2 linked regions of the Homo sapiens genome follow. The protein of the gene in region 2 purifies or fractionates together with the protein of the main gene of each other region. This does not show direct contact. Each region holds a gene or a part of one and is shown on either strand. Other genes may lie near its edges.

What was found. Proteins that work in one complex are often made in the same cells at the same time.
Region 1: the proteins of KRT73 (region 2) and GAN purify together in Homo sapiens (affinity purification with mass spectrometry; one large-scale study listed by BioGRID and IntAct). This does not show direct contact.

What each region holds. Positions count from the first base shown.
Region 1 is NC_000016.10:81,321,462-81,324,961, forward strand, and holds part of GAN (gigaxonin), read left to right. Parts: intron 1-3,500. UniProt on the Homo sapiens protein: Probable cytoskeletal component that directly or indirectly plays an important role in neurofilament architecture.
Region 2 is NC_000012.12:52,612,060-52,615,559, reverse strand, and holds part of KRT73 (keratin, type II cytoskeletal 73), read left to right. Parts: intron 1-220; coding exon 221-281; exon of another isoform or gene 282-885; coding exon 886-981; exon of another isoform or gene 982-1,707; coding exon 1,708-1,872; exon of another isoform or gene 1,873-1,996; intron 1,997-2,730; exon of another isoform or gene 2,731-3,219; intron 3,220-3,500. UniProt on the Homo sapiens protein: Has a role in hair formation. Specific component of keratin intermediate filaments in the inner root sheath (IRS) of the hair follicle.

The DNA.
Region 1 (3,500 bases), on a different chromosome or scaffold from region 2:
ATAATTTAGGATTGAAGTAAAATGCTCTTCCACATAGAAACTCTGGTTCCTTAGGATTTATATTTGGATGATATAGAGTAAGCATCCAGTTTTCAAAACCGCCTTATCCATTGTTTAAAGTGTTAATGAGTTCTTATGATATCAAAGTGGGACTTAAAATCTATTTATAATTTGTAAGGAAAACATAATTAGGACAAATAAGGGTTCATTTGGTCTGTGAGTGCCATGCAATAAGTTCTTCACAGGGTTGCATCATCCTTCTGAAAGACACAAGACTATCATTTTGTGTACTAAAGCTGTAATATAAATGAATGATTTGTGAGTTTGAATTCTGGGTTAAGGGTGGAGATACGGGGGTGTGAGATGTGACACGTGGCAGGCTATGGTTGCGACCTTGCATTTGAGCGCTTCCCATGGGTTCTCTTCCTCCTAAGCCACAACAAATCCAAAGAAGGAAGGAAATCAAAGGCTCAGGTAAAGGTGGCAGCTCTGGCTCTGTGGAGGATAAAGATTCTATGTCCATCTAGATGGCCCGACACTCTACCAGAGTTCCTGATTCTGGTGCTTGGAAGAGCAGAGTTAAATCATCTTCCTAAGTACTTAGGGCCAAAGAGTGACTTAGCCATAGAATGATGGTCAGATGTTTGCTGCATTCATTTCTCTCTGGGAATGTGAATGCCCTAATTTCTCATAAAGATTATTACAGAAATACTGCAAAATAGAAATACGTAGTACTTTGCCATTTGCTATTATAGTGAAGGGATTTGGACTTTTCCTCTGTTCAAATAAGTTAGAAAAATGGAATACTTAGGTAAATAAGATCTTGGTGAAATATTTTGTTGGTTATCTCCAGTGTTCACCACATGCAGAGGAGATAAGACATCTCAGCAGCGGCTAGGTACTAGCAAGATGGTGGCAACCAACTGGCAAGGCCTTTGCCCTTCTGGAGCCTCCATTTCAATAGAGTAAGGCTTAGAGGGCCAATGCGTATCATAAATGGAAGATAGGAGGACTAGTTTTTAAAAGTTGACTGTTGAATAATGAAATACAGACCAATTAAATATCTTTGGGGTTTATTTGGATTTGAGTTTTTATAGAAACTTAAATGTATATTTTTGCTCGTAGATATTTTGTGGTTCTCTCAACTACAAAGTTGTTTATGTTTTTAAGAACAATTTTAAAGACCATTTGATGCTTGTGATTTTTATGGTAACATATTAATATGACTAGATATATTTTGAAACATAGTTTTATGGTCCTATTAGCATTCATCAGTAACCAGTTGCCTACACCTCTGAATAATAGTAAATGGTTTAGTATTACTGAGCTCAAAATATTTGCACTTTTGTCACTTAAATTGTTTATATTGATCAGTCCCTGAATTGTAAGAAACTTCATACTGAAACCTCACATTTAGGCTGTGAGTTTGATATGAGTCTTTTCTAACCCACAGAGAACATTCACTAGAAATGAAGCCAGAAGTTTAAGGACAGCGGGATTTTGAAGGACAATGAAAATCCTTAGAAAGTTCCCTGATATTCGTGTTTGCCATTCTCCTCTCCATGCTACAGCCCCCAGTCTACTTCAGTGATGGAGCTGGAGGCCAGCAGGACCCATTGGTTAATTGTATAGTCTTCCATTTGGTTAGTCCAGGGAATAGTTTCCCACAACTTCTAGCTTCTCTTCCTTACATGAAAGTTGGTACAGGGATTTGACACTTAGTATAACAGATAAGAGACTTCTCTCGGGGTTTTTGGTGGGTTTGTTTGTTCTCCTGCTTGGCCTCCTTAACAGCTACTGTCTTGTGCGACCAAAGCTATCAACTTTGTTCCCCGCCTAAAAATTACAATGCCTGCTGTTGGTAGGAAAGGAATAGACATCTCATTTTTATCACCCCCTGAGTGGGGTGCTTGAGCAAAAGAGGTTACCATTTCCTTTATTTATAGGCTTCTTTCATAGTGATCAGAAAAGGGGTTATGAAAATATTCACTGTCATAATAAGTCTTGGGACATCCTTAAGAAATGTCATCACTGCCTTAACCCATATGCTGTGGGGTTGTGTTTACCAATAATAGATTGCAGTTCAAGAATTAGCATTGTCTAAAGTTATTGAGATATACTGTGTATTGTTTCTTCACAGATATATTTCACAGTAAAGGGACCTTCTATATAATTAGGGTGTTGTTTAGGGAGTTGATTACAGGTTTAGTCGTTTAATACATACACAGGAGATAACTCAAGACATCTCAGCAGCATCTATGTACTGGCAAGATGGTGGCAACGAACTGACAAGGCCACTGTCCTCCTGGAGCCTCCATTTCAGTCATTTACAGAGGATTGCGCCCTCCAGGACTCCATCCTCTTGTGCTGCCTGCCATTGGAGCATTGTATTCAGTGGCCTCCCACAGAGAGTATCAAAACTAACCCAGTATGTGGAGACCTATGTCAGTCTATTTATTTTTCTATCTCTGTGGGGCTGGAGAAGGAAATAAACATAAAACTAAAGATTTAAAGATTACTTTTGATTTCACTTAGTTTTTTTATAACATCCTTGTGTTATGGGTAGTTTCAGAATCTCAAGAATGAGCAGAGAATAGATTTGCTGTGTTTATCAGAGTAGAAACTTCTGATAGTCTGCCCTAAAAGAATTTAATTGGCTGATTTGACCCTTTATTATTATAGTGTTACCCCAATTAATCACATTTACAGAAATGACTTTCTTTAAGTAGAGAACATCAGTTCTTGGCTAAGCCTCTCTAATATGCCCGTTTGTTCATTGCCCTTTCTAGACGGAGTGCCAGCATCCATGGGGGCTACCTGGGGAGGTGAGCAGTAAAGGGGTCTAATTACAGAGCCATATGAGTTTGCCGAAGGAAGTCCACAGAGGATGAGCATGGCTGCTGCTGTGGCCTGGGTGACGGGATCCCTGCTCCGAGGTGGTGCCATTGAAACTGAGATCTGAGGGAGGAGGAGACCTAGGCATGAGAAGAGCAGGGGGAGGCACCAGGATCAGGGGTGGCACCAGGACTAGGTCAGGCCTCTCTGGGAACAGAACACCACATACCTGGAGATGGTGAGCAAAGGGTGGGATGGCATCGACAACAGATTAGAGGCTGGGAAGGCCTGTGATCCCTGAGTTAGAGCTGGCATTTAGACTGCTTCCAAAGAAGATGAAACTTCTGCTGCCATGTTGTGTATTGGGAGCTGGCTGGGGAGGTGATAGGATATGAGAAAGGGACAAAAAAGCAATTGATGGCATAGTTGAGTCTGATAGAGAGTTTAGGCTTTATCTTACGGGCTATGGATGGGCAGTGGTGTATTTTAAAAGAGGAATATTTGTTTGTGTATTGTTTTAAAGTCACTCCAATGCAGTGCTGCTGGGTGTGCTCTATAAAAGCCAAGAGTGGAACCAGCGGCCGTTTCAGCAGGTGCTGCAGTTGTTCAGATGGAAAGTGGGATGCCCTGGGCCAGGTTTGGCAGTGGAGGCGGACACAGCAGCT
Region 2 (3,500 bases):
ATCAGACCTCAAACCACCCAGGCTCAGGAGGAGGTTACTTCATACCCGGCCTCCAACTCTGGCCAAATAGTCCTGGTGTGTTGGGATGGACTTGCAAAGGTATAGAATAATACCTCTTAAAAGGCATATAATATGGGTATCTCTTTTCTCATTTCACTATGAGAACGTATACACACACACACAGACACACACTCTGCTTCCTGTGATGCTTTCCCTGCAGGTATGAAGAAGAAATAAACAAGCGCACAACTGCTGAGAATGAATTTGTGGTGCTTAAGAAGGTGAGGAGGGTGCATGGGTTCCCTTCAGTCCCCCAGCAGTGGGTGCTGGGCTAAGAGAGAGGAGCAGCTGAGGTCTGAGCCCCCCGCAGAAGGGCCTGGAGCCAAAGTGCTGAAGGAGGAGATGAAGGGCTTGCTGCTTGGGACATTTTGGGACACCTGGTGTTGGTTTAGCACACAGTACTTTGTCTGTGGACAGGAACCTAGATGTGGATAGTCAGTCCCAACTCATGTCCCCTCTGGCTGGGGAACAGGACAGGCTTTGGGAGGGGCTGCAGGTTTGCCTTCCAACTCTGCTAGTTTCTGGCAAATCGCCGTGGCTGTCCTTGCCTCCCTCTGTTGGCTGAATGACTGGCTGAGTGGGGTATAGAGTCTCACACCCTTCTCTGAGAAATAGAGGCAGAAGGAGTTCCAGAGGCATGAGAAACTTGCCCCAGGTTTCGCAGTGAGTCTGACAGTGAAGTTGTGGCTGGAAGGCCGGTTCCTGCCCCTTGGATCTGAAGTCCTGGGCAGCTAGCTAGGGCAGGGCCTGCAGGTGTCAGTTCGCTGGAGAGGCCTGTCTGGGCTTGAAGAAAGGTGAGGTCAGGGGTATCTGGATTCTCCATAGGACGTGGACGCAGCTTACACGAGCAAAGTGGAGCTGCAGGCCAAGGTGGATGCCCTGGATGGAGAAATCAAGTTCTTCAAGTGTCTGTACGAGGGGGTAAGGCTCCCCCTGCCCCACCTCTGGCTCTGTCTTCTGGAAGGACAGATATGTGATGAACAGTTTCTTACTTATCTGTAACTTAAGCAGTCCAGGGCACCTCCAGCATTGGGGTGCTGAGAAATTTGTAGATCAAAGGTGGGAGTGGCCATCTATCCTGGTGCCCCATCCATCCCTGACTGCCCTGAGGATGTCCTGCTTTCACTTCCTCCAGGAAAACAGAGTCCTTAAAGGGTTCCCACTGAACTTCAGCCAAGCATATTCTCATTCCTGCTTCTCTTCTCTCTGTGGCTGGGGATGTTTCCTGGGGTCTTGGGCAGGAATCCCCAGGGATAGAGGTAGGAAGTCCTCATACCCCTTCTGCCTTCTCTATGTACATCTGGTTTCAAGCCTCAACCTATTGGCCAAGCATTTCTGGGCTCCTGTGCCCCTTAGTGTCCCATGTGTGGCAGCCAGGCTGTTGTCTTCCACCTTCCCCACTCCTGTCCTGTCTCAGGGGACAGACATATGGGCTGTTTTCTTCCTGGGCTGCTTCAAACCCATTCAGCAGTTTTCAGATGTGGTATTGGAACCTCTGGGCTGTGAGCTCTGTTCTTACAAGCTTTGGGAAGTGCAGCTTCCATCTGTGTGGGATGGTCTAGGGCCATCCCTCTGGGACAGGGCCATCACCTTGGGACCTTTCTCTGGTCACAGAAGGCATTTCATGCTTCCTTGTTTCCCCTGCAGGAGACTGCTCAGATCCAGTCCCACATCAGCGACACGTCCATCATCCTGTCCATGGACAACAACCGGAACCTGGACCTGGACAGCATCATTGCTGAGGTCCGTGCCCAGTATGAGGAGATCGCCCGGAAGAGCAAGGCCGAGGCCGAGGCCCTGTACCAGACCAAGGTGAGGCCGCAAAACTCCCCATAGTGAAGTATGCAGGGCCCTCTGCTCCAGACTCTGTCTTGTCTGCCCCATGACTCACTGTGGTGGCCCATAGCTTGCTGGGAGCACAGCACTCTCCTGGGCACTGGGGGAAGCCAAAGGGGAGGAGAAGACACAGCTCTGTCCTTGGCACCCACTTAGATCAACAGCACCCCTGGAGGATGCACTCAGCTGAGTGCAGGTGAATGTGGTGTAAACAGAGTCCAGACTGAGGAACTAGGACCAGGTGGGGCAGGTCAGAAACCACTCCCTGGAGGCAGAGAGTTCTGTCTGGAGGGGAGAAGCCACATGAGTAGTTGGCATCTCAACTCCCCCGCTAATTATCATAAATGAGGGGGTCTCTTCAGTGTGATCTGGAATCAAGTAATTTCTACCTTTTCATTCAAGTCTAACTCCAAGGATAAAGCAGAAGTTTGAGGCCTCAGATCTTAACTCCCCTAATGGTAGTGGGTGGGAAGTGATTCTTTAGATAATTTGGTTTCTCAGATCAAGATGGCAACTTCCTGATTGTTCCTTGCTGTTTATCAGGCTCTTTCTCAAGGGAATCCACACTCTTGGGAGATCTTATCTCATCCCTCTCCCTGCCTCCTTGCTAGCCTGCAGTGGTGGAGGAGAGAGGCTTTCAAGGTCTAGGAGACATAGGCTAGGGCTTCTTGGTAAAGGTTCAAACTCAACTCTTCAGTCCCCAAAGCCTTCCACATTAGTGTTGCAAGCTAGGGTCAGGAATGCCCAGAATCATAACAGTATTATTATTGCTTATTTTGATGATTCCTTTTTAAAGATAAAGAACGTAGGGCCCAGGGAGTTCAAGCTACTTACCAAAGGCAATAGCTGACAAGTGACGCAGCTGGATCAGAATCTAGGTGACTGACTTCAAATTCCACTGCATTTAGGCAGAAAATCAGAAGGTGACTCTGGGAAAGAAGCATTTACTCTAAGGGCTTTGTGTGGCTTGACAGAGGAGTGGCAGGAAGATGTTCATCTGTTTGCCTCAGAATGAAGCTGCTTGGTGTCAGAACCAGTGTACGGGGAGGCATCCTGCTCACACAGCCTTGCGGAGAAGCAGGAGAAGGCCCCTTGTTTAGGGTTGGCACCAAAGATAAAATACAAGGAGTGAAGAGAGAAGCCCTTCTGCCTTCTCTGCTTTCTGGATAACTTGACATCTTTAGGAACAATCCTAAATCTTGGGCCATGCTGGGGTGGAGCACCCAGTGACAGAGACAGAGCAGTACACCAGAGTGCTGAAGGGTCCCTGTTTTGTTTTCCCCTTGAGCCACATTCTGAGTAGAACTGATGTACTCTCTGTGACTGTTTAATAGATGACAACAAAGACAGAAATAATCCCGAATTAGTAGATGACCTAAAATTCATGGCTAGTGGTTTTGGGGTATAGCTGAATCCACCCCCATCATGCACACAAAATGTTCCTCCATGCTAATCCCTCCCTCCATCCCAGCCCTGGAAAGCTGCCTGTGGGCTGGGGCCCAGCTAAGGTATCAAAGGGAGGGAGTCACAGAAAATACAGATGGACAGCTCATTGGCTCACTCATTCATTCATCAGACTTTTTTTGAGCACCAACTAGGCACTA